Linked DNA regions of Homo sapiens: region 2 is linked to region 1. The links come from fine-mapping of genetic effects on gene expression. Tissue or cell type: subcutaneous fat. Region 1 holds a variant in brackets; the other region holds the start of a gene. All regions are shown on one strand. Distances are between the middles of the regions.

Region 1 (8,101 bases):
CGTTGCCAAGCGGACTGTGGTCTAGTGGTAGCGTCAGTGTCAAGGAAAAACACCCGCTACCTAGCAGACCGGGAAAGGGAGTCTCCCTTTCCCCGGGGGAGTTTAGAGAAGACTCTACTCCTCCACCTTTTGTGGAGGGCCTGACATGAGTCAGGCCCGCCTGCAGTTATCCGGAGGCCTAACCGTCTCCCTGTGATGCTGTGCCTCAGTGGTCACGCTCCTGGTCCGCTCTCATGTTCCACTCTGCACACCTGGCTCTGCCTTCTAGATAGCAGTAGCAAATTAGTGAAAGTATTAAAGTCTTTGATCTTTCTGAAAAGAGCATAGAAAAAATAATGGCATAAGCTGTCCTCTCTGTCTCTCTGACTCGGCTGCCAAACAGGGAAGGGCCCCCTGTCTGGTGGACACGTGACTCCGTGACCTTATCAATCAGTTGGATGACTCACAGTCTTTACCCTGCCCCTTTTGCTTTGTATCCAATAAATAACAGCGCAGCCTGGCATTCGGGGCCACTACTGGTCTCTGCGTCTTGGTGGTAGTGGTCCCCCGGTCCCAGCTGTCTTTTCTTTTATCTCTTTGTCTTGTGTCTCTTTTTCTACAATCTCTCATCTCTGCACATGGGGAGAAAAAACCCACAAACCCTGTAGGGCTGGCACCTACATAGAAGCTTTATTCAGAATTACCAGAAACGAGGTGACCAACATGTCCTTCAGTAGGTGAATTGAGAAATAAATTCTGGTACCTACAGACAATGGAATATCATTCAGTGAGAAAAGAAATGAGCTATCAAGTCATGAAAAGGCATACAGGGACCCAAAATGCACATTACTAAGTGAAAGAAGCCAAAAAGGCTACATACTGTATGATTCCAATTATGTGACATTTTGGAAAAGGAAAAACTACATAGAGAGTAAAATATCTATGTAATTACGTGACATTTTGGAAAAGGGAAAATTACATAGATAGTAAAATAATCAGTGGTCGACAGGGGTTGGGGAGAGGAAAGGATGGATGGGCAGAGAGCCCCGGATGTTTAGGGCAGTGAGATCACTGTGTGCGATTTCACCACAACAGTGGACCCACGACAGTGTGCAGATGCCAACACCCACTGAACGCAGACCACAAAAAGGTATTAATTACATAAACTATGAACTTTCATAATGAAGTAAATCACGTTTTAAAAAAGTAGACAGTTTTTTTTCAGTTATTGTCTACTTTCTGAAATGGAGATGGCGGAGTGCTTCCATGGTTGTGAGGATAAAAATAGCTTAGAGAATGTAATAACTAAAATAGGTGTGTAAACATTGTTAAACTATTTTATCCTCATTAAATATATTTGTAACTTTTTACAACTGAGCGAGTAGTGCAAACACATTAACATAATTCTCCTGTAGCTCCACTCAGAAGTCAGGACTGCAGGGCTTCAGTGCAGGGCCACACAGCTCCACACGCACCTGCCAAACGCAACAGCCTCTTTCAGCGTCATTAAAATATTTCAACAGGAGGACTGAGTTTAGACTCAACCTGTGTTTTCTCCCCTGGAAAACGAAGGTTTCATGAAGCAAGGAAGGTCTTTACTGTCCTCATCCGAAACGCTGAGGCATCTGTGATGTCTGCTGTAAGTGCCACCAGGCTCTCCGCTGAAATCTCGCAACGGGAAAATAGAGACCGTAGATTCTGCTTTTAGAAAGGGGAGAATCAGAAGTAATGTGGAAATGCCATGTCCTCGTTCATAAACATCTTCTTTTACAAATTCCACAAGTTTAGTTACTTTGGGATTAATATGGGCTTATCTTAAAGTGCGTTTATTAACTTAGCGTGAGTTGTTCAAATGCATTCTGGATCCTGAGCCGACATCCAGCAATGCTGAGTGTGCGCCTGTGTGAGTCACCAGCCCTGATGAGCCTCAGGTTATTGTGTTCGTAAAATGAAGGGGCTTAGGCTTGCTGCGATTTTTTAAAAACCATTTTTAACAGTAAAAATTTTTTTCTTGCTACATAAAAATGTACAAGAAAAACTCAGACATTACCAATGATAAATTATAATTTTATTAATATAAATATTTTTGTGAGCTCAATTTATATGACTTAGTTATTATAAAAGAAATAAGCAATATGAGGTGGCCATTACCATCCTGTCCCGTTTTATTTTGTTCATATGCTATTGATAAATCTTGATGTATACAGAAAAGTAGTTTCAAAGAATAATAATTTTTAAAAAGGACTTGTAATTTCAAGAGACTTTTAAAAAAATCTGCAATTGCTTTTTAAAGGTTCTAAAACAGTTGTCTATGCCTTAAAGCTAAATAACTACAAAGAGCTCACTCTTCTCACATTCTGTATTATAAATATGTAAGTCAGAGAAACAACAGACAAAATCATAAAAACACATGCATGAACAAATGGGCCTTGGTTTACATTTAATTGGATCTTGCAATACACATGGGTTATAGTAGTATTTCTGTGTGTAATTTTACATGAGTGGATTGCTATCAAAATAAAAATTGTCTACAATCTCTTTTCAGTGGTAAATTTGCACAAATGGTAAACATACACATAGAGATAGTGGGAGAAATTTATTTCGTGGCTTGCAAGAAGACAGGTTAAGTTGGGACATTTAATTGTTTCATTAATGCTACATTTTAAATGCACTTGTATGGGCATGGTATTTTAATGTATTATTATGACTTTTAAATGCTCAATGTTACAGATGGAATATTAGAGCAAGTACTAACTTATATCTTCTTTGTGTGTGCTTTGGAGGCATCAGGAAATAAAGCAGCCCTTTTCCCTTTTCCCAGAAGCTGTGCTTCTGCAGATTAGATCTCTCTGTAACACACACACACCCATGCACGCATGAGCGCACACACACGCGCACACACACGAGCACACGCACGCGCAGGCACACACATGCACACACACGCACACGCACACACACGTGCACACATACACCCAATATAGCCTTTAGGGTTAAAAGGAGGAAAAGAGAATTTGCCTGGATAACTCTTACCCAGGTATTTTCTGGGGAGATCTAGAATAATCTAAGGGGGTAAGCTGGACTAGCCAATGGGAAATCAAAACGAAGATACTGGAGAGATGTTCCCAGAAAAGGAGCATTCCTAATGGGCTTGGCCCTAGTCACATGCAATTCCCCAGATGTGGTTGGTGTGGCCAAGGTTCCAGCATTTGTCAGCTGCTTTCTTGCCACTTCTTGTGCTGTGAGGAGTATCCCCTCCCCAATGCCAGAGGCAGTCGTCCTCTAACCCCCTTCAGAGTAAAGGGCCAGCAATTGGCAGTCACAGGAAAAGTAGTGAGACAGGAAGGTGCGGAGCATGAAGTCCCACCATACCGGCCTCCAGTGTCTGGCACAGAATATGACGAGGAACCTCCGTGAATTGGAATCTTCCACATCTTGATATATGGGAGTTTCTGCTAGATATAATTTGACTTAAAAAAGAAAGAAATATGACCTTCTTCACCTAAATATTGTAGAAGAGGTAATGATTGCAACCTGGATGTTTTACATTCTGAGATGCTATTAAACCAATATTCATCACAAATGTATTGATAATTTTTTAGAAGAACAGAAGAGATCCCATCATATTAAATGAAGTGTATCAATTAT[A/T]AGATGCATGCTAACTCCAGAAAAAGCAAAGCATGAAAAAAATCTGTCTTAGAATGGAAAAATACAGTAGTTAAACTATTTTTAACTGGAATTTAAATGCAACATTTTAGGATATGAAGCTGTCAACTCATTTTGAAAACTGCTGGCTCAGATGACCTCAGCGATAGGAAACCTCTAAAAGATCATGAATCTAATCAGGTAATTTTCTGTGCCTTTGCCTGAGAGTCTAGCTGAAAGTGGTGCAGTTTTTACAGAAGAGGAATAACGTGTCCCGAACTGGGAACCCTTCACCGGCCACCACTCCAGGCGGCGCTTCACTGTGGAGTTTTGGTCGCCAGAGGGCTCCAGGGGACTGCTGGGGAAGGCCAGGACATGGAAGAGGGCCTAGAGCCAGGGTTACCCGGGAGGGGGTGGACCCATTTTGCCAAGCACCTGAGGACCATACCGTACAGGATCCTCTCAAAACCACCCGCACACTAGGTGGGAATAAAGGATAAGAGAAATTAATGTGTGCTTAGCATGTGAGAGCTGACATTCAGAGTCAGCCTGAGCAAAGAGATTCATACGGAAGGACGAAGCGCATGTTGTGAGACAAAGAACACCCAATTATAAGATAGAAAACCTTGGTTCTGGGAAATTCCTGAACCTGTTTGCCCATCCATGAAAGAGTAAGAGTGATACTACCTTCTCCACCTTATTCTTGTAACAGAACTGCCCGTTTCTTTCGTGCCCACAGCTAAGTGTTTAATAGGAACAATGTGACAAATATAAGGTCATTGCTCTTACACAAAAGGTTCAAGAAAACTGAGAAAGATCTAAAAATTCCCAAAGGAATGATTTTTCAAAGTACAACATCTTAATTTACATAGAGAGAAATAATACATTTTGTCTCAAATAAAGATTTGGCCACATCCTAAGTATAGCATTGAAGAGCAGTTAAGCTATTTCTTCAAAGAAAATATATCAAAATTAAACCTGTACTTTTTGAGTGTGAATTCTAACACACAAACCTGGTGCAATATATTTAAAACAAAGCAGAGATTAATTAATTAATTAATGATTCCCCATCACCATTTTCAGAAAACCCAGTAACTTAGTGCCTTAAGATGTTCAAATCATCCCAAAAACTTGAGTTACTAAATATTTTCAAAACCCTTTCTCAAGCTTTGCTATTCTAGCTTTAGTTGGAAGAAGAAGCTTCCAAGTTAAAGATGGTAGACGAAATACTGACCCAGTTGTGTCCTTTCCCTCCTGAGAAACCATGGTGGCTATCCACGATGGAGAGAGAGCAGCGGAGACAAAAAGTGATTTGATGGCCTCGCATCCGTGAGAAGGAGCATCATCTGTGGACCTTCCTGGGGGTGAGGGGCAGAGAAGTGAGGCAGGCATCAGAAAACAGGAGGGTCGATTAAAATCTGTACATTGACAGTCAACCCTCATTATCCTCCCTCACCGATGCCAGCACCCCACCCCTCGGGTAACCAGTGAGTAGAACACCAACAACCAACAAGCAAGCAGCTGCCTTCCAGAGAGGAGAGGAGAAGGTTTTCTCCAGAGGAAGGAAACCATCCAGACCAAAGGCATCACTTACTAACATGCGGAAACCCCATCGACTCCCCGAAGCAAAACCTCTAGACGAGCCTTTCACTAATGATAACACACTCATTCTCCTTCACGTGTTACTATTAAATGTGAACAGTGAAGAATCACCACCTAGACGAGCCTTTCACTAATGATAACACACTCATTCTCCTTCATGTGTTACTATTAAATGTGAACAGTGAAGAATCACCACCTAGACGAGCCTTTCACTAATGATAACACAGACTCATTCTCCTTCTTCACGTGTCACTATTAAATGTGAACAGTGAAGAATCACCATCTAGACGAGCCTTTCACTAATGATAACACAGACTCATTCTCCTTCTTCACGTGTCACTATTAAATGTGAACAGTGAAGAATCACCATCTAGACGAGCCTTTCACTAATGATAACACAGACTCATTCTCCTTCATGTGTTACTATTAAATGTGAACAGTGAAGAATCACCACCTAGACGAGCCTTTCACTAATGATAACACAGACTCATTCTCCTTCATGTGTTACTATTAAATGTGAACAATGAAGAATCACCATCTAGACAAGCCTTTCACTAATGATAACACAGACTCATTCTCCTTCTTCACGTGTCACTATTAAATGTGAACAGTGAAGAATCACCATCTAGACGAGCCTTTCACTAATGATAACACAGACTCATTCTCCTTCTTCACGTGTCACTATTAAATGTGAACAATGAAGAATCACCAGACATTGAAGGGAAACCCATCTCAATGGGAAAAAAGACCAAGGTAAACCAGCAGGCGGAATGATTGTTGAGAACCTAACATCATAGCAAAATAAGAAATAAGAGTTTTATATTATCATTCACTTAGTGGCACTGTCTGAGGTTTCACTATACAAATATATTGCTTTGATATGTGTGTGTATATATACATACATATATATATATATATATATATATATATTTTTTTTTTTTTCTGAGTCTCGCTTTGTTGCCCAGACTGGAGTACAGTGGTGTAATCTTGGTTCACTGCAACCAAGGTCTCCCGGGTTCAAGCGATTCTCCTGCCAATTTTCATCTTTTAAGTGGAGACAGGGTTTTGCCATGTTGGCCAGGCTGGTCTCAAACTTCTGACCTCAGGTGATCTGCCCGCCTTGACCTCCCAAAGTGCTGGGATTATAGGCATGATAGAGTTTTAACTATTAGAAGAAACCAGAGGAAGCTACCATTGGAATAGATGAAACATCAGCAATACATTAAAATATCAGCAATTTCACATGTTCGAGATTACTTTTAAAAAATAAAAAGAGAACAGAATTGATTTAGTTTCTAGGCCAGCAACCAAGGAAAAAGCAAGGAATGGAAGATTTTATAATCGCATAACAATAGCAAGATCTTACATTTCTATTGAGCTTTAAAGATTACAGGCCAGGCACGGTGGCTCACGCCTGTAATCCCAGCACTTTGGGAGGCTGAGGTGGGCGGATCACAAGGTCAGGAGTTCAAGACCAGCGACCAGCCTGGTCAATATGGTGAAACCCTGTCTCTACTAAAAATACAAAAATTAGCTGGGCGTGGTGGCGGGTGCCTGTAGTCCCAGCTAGTCGGGGGGCTGAGGTGGGAGAATCGCTTGAACCCAGGAGGCAGAGGTTGCAGTGAGCTGAGATTGTGCCATTGCACTCCAGCCTGGGTGACAGAGCAAGACTCTGTCTCCTAAATAAATACATAAATAAAAATACAAAAATTAGCAGGGCGGGGTGGCACACGCCTCTAATCCCAGCTACTCGGGAGGCCGAGACATGAGAATCTCTTGAACCTAGGAGGCAGAGGTTGCAGTGAGCCAAGATTGTACCACTGCACTCCATCCTGGGCAACAGATTGAGACGCTGTCTCAAAAAAAAAAAAAAGAAAGAAAGAAAGTAGAAAAACTTCAAATAAACCACCTAACAATGCATCTTAAAGAACTAGAAGAGCGAGCCAGGCGCGGTGGCTCATGCCTGTAATCCCAGCACTTTGGGAGGCTGAGACGGGTGGATTGCTTGAGGTCAGGAGTTCAAGACCAGCCTGGCCAACATATTGAAACCCTGTCTCTACCAAAAATACAAAAAATTAGCTGGGTGTGGTGCCAGGCACCTGTAATCCCAGCTACTCAGGAGGCTGAGGCAGGAGAATTGCTCGAACCCAGGAGGCAGAGGTTGCAGTGAGCGGAGATGGCACCACTGCACTCCAGCCTGGGTGACAGAGTGAGAATCAGTCTCAAAAAAAAAAAAAAAAGAAAAGAAAAGAAAGAACGAGAAAAGCAAGAGCAAGTCAAACCCAAAATCAGAAGAAAACAAATAATAAAGATCAGAGCAGAAATAAATGAAATTGAAATAAAAAAAAATCAAAAAAACAAAAAAGTTTGTTTTTTGAAAAGATAAACAAAATTGACAAACCTTTAGCCAGACTAAGAAAAAAAGAAAAAAGACTCAAATAGATAAAATCAGAAATGTAAAAGGAGGCATTACAACGGATACTGCAGAGATTCAAAGGCTCACTAGAGACTTCTATGAAAACTATATGTTGCTAATAAATTGGAAAACCTAGAAGTGGATAAATTCCTAGACATATTCAACCTACTGTGATTGAACCACGAAGAAATCCAAAACCTGAACAGACCAATAACTAATAATGAAATCAAAGCCATAATCAAAAGTCTCCCAGTAAAGAAAAGCCCAGGACCTGAAGGCTTCACTGCTGAATTTTACCAAATATTTAAATAACTAATACCAATCCTGTTCAAACTATTCCAAAAAATAGAGGAGGAGGGGATACTTCCAAACTCATCCTACAAGGTTAATATTACCTTGATACCAAACCAGACAAAGGCACATTTTAAAAAAGAACAAAAGAAAAAAAACTTCAGGCCAATA
Region 2 (8,101 bases), 210 kb before region 1:
TGCAGCAAGCCACATTCTGAATACACCAAGCCAGCCCTTGCAAACCCACAGGAAGCACGGGGTGGCTTTTTAGAGGCACGAGGATCCTTAGATGAAGGGATATGACCCTGGGCCGACACAAGTGCCATTCCGGGTTCAATCACCCTCCTTCCCCCGTCTTCCCAGGCCTCTTTCTCAAACACGTCTTTATGGCTTTTCTTTTTTTTTTAGACAGAGTCTTGCTCTGTCACCCAAGCTAGAGTGCTGCCATTTCGGCTCCCTGCAACCTCTGCCTCCCAGGTTCAAGCCATTCTCCTACCTCAGCCTCCCGAGTAGCTGGAATTACAGGCGCTCGCCACCACGCCCGGCAAAATTTTTTATTTTTAGTGGAGACAGGGTTGGCCAAGCTGGTCTTGAACTCCTGACCTCAGGTGATCCACCCGCCTGGGCCTCCAAAAGTGCTGGGATTACAGCGTGAGCCACCGCGCCCGGCCCTTTATGCCTTTTCTACTTTACACCAGATGCTGTCTCGTTTCATCCTCATGACAACCCTACGTAGTAGCCCCTTCCCCCTGGGCTCAGTTTGCCGATGAAGAGCCTAAGACTCCAGAGCCAAAAGGCGTTGCCTGTGTTCCCTGGGCTGCCAAGGGCGTCGCTGATGCTGGACCTCTGAGTTTCAGCCCCTGCTCTTCCCTGTGCACCTTGCTGGTCGTTGGCCAAAATTTGGCTGATGTTCCTGGCAGGACCTCTTGTCCAGGGATCCTTTCCTTTTGAGTGTCCTGGAGCACAGTGGGGTTTCCCAGAGGGGCAGAGGGGTCTGTGGAGAGTTTTGGTGTCCTCGGTGGCAAGTTGAGGTGGCCTGTCCCAGACTGACAGATAGACCGGGGGTTCTCCGAGGAGGGGCCCATAAAGACCCTTCCCCGTGGAGTGCGCTGTGGCCGGCGTCCCCTCCCCTGCCTGCCCTGCACTTGCTCCAGCCTGTCACCTCCCTGGGGTCACTGATAGTGCTGGAGACCAAGGCCTATTTCGACCCAGTTGCCTTTCCCTGTGGCATGGAACCAGGACGGCCAGGCTTCCTTCTGAGTCATTCCTGCCTGGGGCGACCAGTAGACACCAAATTTCCATCTGTCCTTGTCTAGCCCACCTCTGTCTGCTGTGCCTTATCCTTTAACCCTTGAGAGCCAGGGCTGTTCCTTAAGGAAACCCTCATTGCGGCAGCTCCTTTGTGGAAACCCTGTGTTTTTCCTCTGGCCTGGGCTTCAGTGTGACCCAGCCTGGGTGAGGGTCCTGCCGGCAAGTGTGCAAACAGACCCTAGACTCAAGTATAGGCAGGTCATCTGTAAACCCCTTCAGGGAGCCAAAAGGAACGGGGCTGGCTGGCTGCCAGTCCTCCAGCAGCTGCCCTGTGGGGGTGGGGGCTGCCCACCCGCCCTTGGTGACTGCTTTTCCTGCCAAGGCCCTGGTCATGCCCGGTCAGATGTGTGGGTGCCATCTCCCAGCCACGACCATCTCCTCTCCTGGCCCAGCTCCACTTGGTCCCCTTAGCGACGCAAAGGACTCAGCGCTCCACGACATGCCTAGCTTCTTCGGGTCGTCATGGAGACGCCCTTGCACACCAACAGTCCTTCACTCCTTCTCCGGGTCACGCCCCCGTGCTTTTCCACGCCCACCCCAGGTCTTGCCCCTCTGCGCTCCTCTCCACAGACCCCACTTCCTGGCTCCACATGGAGCTGAGTGTCCAGCTGGTACCCAGCACATTTGGGCTCAGCTTTAAATCACAGATTTGGAAACTCAAGAACTTGGGCGTCAGGAGGTCCAACCGTTCACCACTGCTTTTTACACAGGGGACCGGGGCCCTGGGGAGACACGGGGCAGGGCCTGGTCACAGGGGCCAGAACAGTTCACGGCAAAGACTTGGCCCTGGGGCTCCTAAATCCAAGCTGCCTCCCCGGCGCCCCAAGCCCCAGCCTCGCTCTGGGAGTCATGATTCCCGTGGAGACTCCTTCAACCACATCTGCAGGGCAGGGCCGTGTGGCGGCTCCTTCCGGCCTCCACGTCCTCACGGTGGGATGAGCACTGGAGCGGGGTTGTGTGGCCAGGGTGGGGTGGGGGTGCTGGAGGGTGGGGAGGTGTAGGGAGGTGGTGGCAGTTTCCTTTGCCCTCAGCCTAGTCCTGAAACATCCCGAGGTGGAAGGGTCCGCTTCACCAGCATGGCTTCTCTTGCAGCCTTTAAACGGCACTCGCCTTCTGACTCACTCCCAGGAAGCTCCTCAAATATGCGCCCAAGAAATATTTTCCCTCGGCGACTGTTCTTAGCCTGCTGAGAGGCAGGGCAGGAGCTGAGACTCTAACCCCAGCTTGAACTCTGGACCCCAGACTCTCCCCCAAAGACTCAGACACCCAGAAACACAGAATAAAACTTGGTCCTGAAGCCAGAGGGACAGCCTGGAAAGTGTGGGGAAGAGGACGGGGGCCCCCGAGGGAACATCTCCCACAGGCCTGGCATCCCTCCCCTCCCAGCTCTGTACACGGAGGAGCCCAAGGCCAATGCCGGGGCTACGAGCCCCAGGCAAGGCCGTGACCCAAATGGAGGCTTTTAAACCCGAGCTCAGAGGTAAGAAGCCCACGGCCAGCACCTCCCGGCCCTCTGCGCCCTGGCCGCCTCCTCCGCACCACCCTCCCGGCCGGCCTGCCCCTCTCCTCCTTGTCGCTTCCCTTGCTTGCTGCTGTCTCCCGATCTTCTCCTCTCTCCATTCCCAGGGTCCTCAGTTTGTCTGCGTCTCACCTGTCTCGTCCTCTCACCCTGCAGCTTTACATGAGTTTTCTTCCGTCTCCATCACCCAGCTTTCCTGGCATCCCCTCTACCCCCAGCTCTGTACACAAGGGTGTACATCTTTCTCCTTGACTCTGTTCCTCTTGCTCTGGCTCTGCCTGTCTTTCTCTCTGCGAGTAAGCCTGGGCTCTCACCATGGATCCTTCCAGACATCGCCGGGCTGCTCTCTGGCCCTCTGTTCTCTTTTCTCTCTCTTTCGAGCATTCTCCCTCTGTCTTTCCCCTCAGATCTTGTCCCGTATCTGCCAGTTCATGCCTCCTCTTCCCCACTTTTCTCCTCTTCTTATTTTTTATTTTATTTTATATTTATTTATTTATTTATTTATTTATTTATTTATTTATTTATTTTGAGACAGAGTCTCGCTCTCTCTCCCAGGCTGGAGTGCAGTGGCGCGATCTTGGCTCACTGCAACCTCCACCTCCCAGGTTCAAGTGATTCTCCTGCCTCAGACTCCTGAGTAGCTGGAATTACAGGTGGGGCCCACCACGACCGGCTAATTTTTGTATATTTAGTAGAGACGGGGTTTCACCATGTCGGCCAGGCTGGTCTCGAACTCCTGACCTCAGGTGATCTCCTGCCTTGGCCTCCGAAAGTGCTGGGATTACAGGCATGAGCCACCGCGCACGGCCTCCACTCTTCTTTCTCTCTCCCTCTTCTCTTCCTCTTCTTTCCCTCTCTGGGTCTCTCTCCACCTTCCCCCCATGTTGTCCCATTCATCTCTTTCTCCTTTCCCTCTCCCTCTTTTTCTCTCCCTTCTCTTCCTCTTCGCTGTCTCCCTTTCCCCTATTCTCTCTCTCTCTCTCTCTGTCTCCCCGGACCTCTTTCTCTGACAGCTCCCACCTCCCCCAAGTGCTCCCCGCAGCCAGCCTCATCTGCTGTCTCCATCACTTACCTGGGACCACATGCGGAAGGAGGCAGAGACACAGGCAGCTCAGGGACACCCAGGGGACCCTCCTCCAGCGTGCCCCCTTCATGGCTGCGGCAAAAGTCCCCCTGGCTCCCTGGGGAAGCTCCACGGCCCAGCAGCTGCAGTGTGAGGAGCAGACGTGAGCCCGTCCCCTCAGGCGGCTGGCCCGAACCAAGTGCGTTTCTCCGAAGGGGCCAGGGAACCTGGGAAGAGGACAAAAGAGGGCGGGGCCCCACGCTAATCACCCTTTTCTCTCCTCAGCCCCACCCCACTACCCCACCAGGAAAGAAAACACCGATACACCCGTTGCTCTGCTTCTCATCAGCCTGAGCTGAGTGGCGGGAGGGATGGGAGGAGACATGGGGGAATGGGAACAGGTCACACTGGAAATGGGTGGGCCACCCTCCTAGCCGGGTTCCTGGGTCCTCTCCTCCCTCCCCAGGGGCTGCCCCTGTCCCACCAGAGCTTTGGGCTGCTGGGAAGAATGGGGAAGAAAGGGCCCCAGAGGGAGCGACCTTGGGGCTGTATGAATGGGGGAAAGAGAGTGAGACTTAAGCAGACCCCAAGGAATTGGGAAGCGGGGAACCATGTGGGTGAGGGGCAGGAACAGAAATGCACTGTATGCCGTCTTTTGGAAAGGGGTGGTGTGCTTGGAATATCTGCTCAGTGCAGGCGCGTGGCAGACCCCAGACGCGTGGCAGACCCCAGACGCGTGGCAGACCCCAGACGCGTGGCAGAACCTCAGTGCAGATGCGTGGCAGACCCCAGACGCACGGCAGATCCCAGACACATGGCAGACCCCAGACCCATGGCAGACTCCAGACGCGTGGCAGACCCCAGACGCGTGGCAGACTCCAGACGCATGGCAGAACCTCAGTGCAGACTCGTGGCAGAACCTCAGTGCAGACGCATGGCAGACCCCAGATGCGTGGCAGACCCTCACCAGATGGTGGACTTCTTCTTTCCAGGGCAGGGAGCTGGAGCCAGGGTGCAGGGAGCCAGGGACAGTCTGGGAGACTGGCCTGAGGGAGCTGGCATGGGCAGTGGGTTGAAGGCAGAACCTCGGTAGGAGGAAGCGACTGTAACCTGTGAGGAGGTGGAGCTGCTCCTGGAGACCTGGGGGCTCTGCTCACCCCAGTTCCACCTCTTGGAACTCACAGGCACAAGCGAGGAGGGAAAGGGACCCCAAGTAGGGTTGTAAAGACGAAGAGGGCAGTTGGTGTAGCTCTCTGCAAAGGAAAACGGGGATACCTCCGCTCCCCTCTTTGCCACAGTGTGAATCTCTGCTTCTGATTCCTCAAGACTTGATTCCCGAATGTGGGGTGTCTGTGGGGTGACTCGTCCCAGAGCAGGGACCTTCGATGCTCAGACACTGTGGGGCCCAGGACAAGGACTCAGGGTTTCTGCATTCCCAAGCAGAGCCAGCCTTGTCCAGCAAGGAGTAGGCAACCGACGCTGTGGCGCTGTCTCCGAGGGTCACGGAGGCCCTGTGACCACTTGCTTCTAGAAGCTGAAAGTCTGTTCATGGCCCCAGGCCAAAGCCTGGGCCACGCCATAATAATGCGGATACCGTGGGGAAGTGGCGTGGTCCCCCAACAGTCCCTCCAGCTCTGGGTGGACGAGCTGACCCTGTTCTTTCCTGGAGGTAAGAAAATCATAAAGGTAAAGAGTCATGTGGAGCATCCTGTGGGCGCCTGGACGGGGCAGCAGGAGGGACCTACTGCAGGGAATTCGCAGACACCAAGGCCCAGCTTGGCCTTCGTGATCATTTTGCACTTTTTTTTTTTTTTGAGATGGAGTCTTGCTCTGTCGCCCAGGCTGGAGTGCAGTGGCACCATCTCAGCTCACTGCAAGCTCCGCCTCCCGGGTTCACGCCATTCCCCTGCCTCAGCCTCCCTAGTAGCTGGGACTACAGGCACCTGCCACCACGCCCGGCTAATTTTTTTTGTATTTTTAGTAGGGACGAGGTTTCACCATGTTGGCCAGGTTGGTCTCGAACCCCTGAACTCAGATGATCCGCCCGCCTTGGCCTCCCAAAGTGCTGGGATTACAGGCGTGAGCCACTGCACCCGGCCCGTGGTCATTTTTCTGTCAGCTCTTGCTCGTGGGTCCCCCCATTACCTTTCCACAGGTTTTGTTTGGTGACGCTTTCAGGACAACAGTTTTCCATCTCTAGAGGAGAAAGGAGCATCCAGGTGAGACCAAACTAAGCGCTGGACATCTTGTTGACCGAACACAGGTAGCTGACCTCTTTCCCATGCCAGGAAGGCCAGAGGCACACAGCGCTCTCCGGAAGCTGCTGTGACGGCCGAGACTCCAGGAGGGCGTTACAAACCTGGGCTTGATCCCAGCTCTGCCACCGCGTCACCACAAAGTCACAGCCTCTTCGAGCTGTTTTCCTCGTTCACCTGTAAAATGGGGATAACACCTATCTGAAAGGTTGTAGGGTGGGAGTGAGCCTGTAGATGCTGAGGGGCTGCGGGAGTATTAGGACACCTGTTGTGAGGACACCTGTTGTTACGACACCTGTTGTGAGGACACCTGTTGTGGAGGACACCTGTGGAGGAACGTGGCTCCTCCTTCCATCCGGGCATCATCCCTGGAGGGAGACACAAACGAGGGCCAGCCAGGATACAGGAGGAGTCCGGAAGTGAATTTCCAGGCCCAGGTCTTTCCTGCGTCCCCTTTGAGTCTTATAGGATCCTGATTAGGAGCGTGAGATCCTGGAGAACTGGGCGTGCGCACTCCTGTTCACCTCTTCCCTGCCCACGCCCGTTTCCCTTCTGCTTTCCAGCTCCCCTCAATATGCCCATTTTCCAGAGTTAGGATGTGTCTGGGTCTCTGTGATAAATGGCTCTGTCTTCATCTGGGTTGGGTCACGGGACACCCATTTGTCCTTCCTTCTCTCCTCCCAAGGCATCCGATGGGGACAGAATGGGGTGAATGAGAGGGGACAAAATGAGTGGCTTCTCTAGTTCCTTGTGGCCGAAAAACCTCCTAGGCCCGCATACTGCTGGGTCTGCATAGGGGCAGGAGTCTGAAGTCAGGTGTAAGTTAATATTCCACGGGAGGCAGGAAGAGCTTAGTGTGGATGTGGGGTGTAAGTAAATTGGAGCAAGGATAAGATCATGAGATTCTCCCAGACTTGGCTTGAAGAGACAGCTGGGTTTGAGGCAGCAAAGCCAGGATCTCCAAGAGAGATTCCCCTTCTAAGCTACCCAAGTAGGAGTCCCTAGTTTTTTGGGTCCCCTAAAATTGCTTACCTTTATATCATTTATGCCTCGTGCTGTGAATAAAGTTCAATCTTGTCAGACTTAGGACAACTAGGCTGATCTCGAGCAGGAAGCTGGATGTTTATTAAGTCTGATTTACCTACTCAGTCTGGACTAAAAAGGTGTGTGGATTCCCTAGTCAGTGACCCAGCATGAAGCCGGTCACTAGAGTGCCAGGCCCTGAGCCTGTCCCCATGGCCCTGTGAAGTACAAAGCGCTGCCCTACCTCTCAAGTGAGCACGCTGAGGCTCCAGGAGCTTCATCATCCCCGAGTCACCGGCCAGGTCGGGCCATCTAGGGAAACTGGAGAGTGTTAACTCCGCAGTTACAGCCTTCTGGGCCACACACTGTCCCAAAGCTGGAATTTGAGCTCTGTTCTGCCTGGCTCCAAAGCAAAAGAAGGGCAATCACCTGGGCTGACCGCCCACGACATCCTTCGCTCCGGGTCCTTTCCCGGTGGCAGGTGGAGACGGCCTTTTGGAGGGGCCTCGCTGTCCAGCTGCAAGGATAGTGGTTAGTGGACAGCTCCCAGCTGCTGGCCCCTGCAGGGTGGGCCTTGCTTTTATGCTGAGCTCATGCTCTTCTCCAGGTGACCCTGTGGCCGATGACTAAGCAAAGTGGCATCACAGTGACCTCACCATTTCCACCCCACAAGACTCCGCCAACAGGCAGTCTGCCCCTCAGAGCGCCCCATGGGCAGGAGCTTTGTGGCTGTGTCAGCTGTGCCACATCCTCCTGCCCAGCCCGGCCTCCTTCTTCTTACACAGGTGCCACATCCTCCTGCCCAGCCCGGCCTCCTTCTCCTTACGCAGGTGCCACATCCTCCTGCCCAGCCCGGCCTCCTTCTCCTTACGCAGGTGCCACATCCTCCTGCCCAGCCCGGCCTCCTTCTCCTTACGCAGGTGCCACATCCTCCTGCCCAGCCCGGCCTCCTTCTCCTTACGCAGGTGCCACATCCTCCTGCCCAGCCCGGCCTCCTTCTCCCTACGCAGGTGCCACATCCTCCTGCCCAGCCCGGCCTCCTTCTCCTTACGCAGGTGCCACATCCTCCTGCCCAGCCCGGCCTCCTTCTCCTTACGCAGGTGCCACATCCTCCTGCCCAGCCCGGCC

What was found. PIP is the estimated chance that this variant, and not a neighbour inherited with it, causes the effect.
Region 2: it holds the start of MUC4, and the variant in region 1 is fine-mapped to the expression of MUC4 in subcutaneous fat (GTEx, PIP above 0.99).

The regions. Positions count from the first base shown.
Region 1 is chr3:196,022,282-196,030,382 of GRCh38, forward strand. LOC124909478 (a long non-coding RNA gene) reads right to left here. Exons shown (of 5, transcript XR_007096234.1): 2 at 4,856-4,979; 3 at 1,525-1,677. Among named protein-coding and RNA genes, the nearest start is that of TFRC, 56 kb to the right of the region's middle. The variant A/T (reference allele first, on the strand shown) is at 3,625.
Region 2 is chr3:195,808,032-195,816,132 of GRCh38, forward strand. It overlaps MUC4 (mucin 4, cell surface associated), which reads right to left and starts at 3,898. Exons shown (of 25, transcript NM_018406.7): 1 at 3,705-3,898. The coding sequence starts at 3,786. LOC124905352 (vegetative cell wall protein gp1-like) reads left to right here and starts at 7,674. Exons shown (of 3, transcript XM_047449429.1): 1 at 7,674-8,101. The coding sequence starts at 7,684. RefSeq lists enhancers at 1,031-1,594, 1,595-2,158.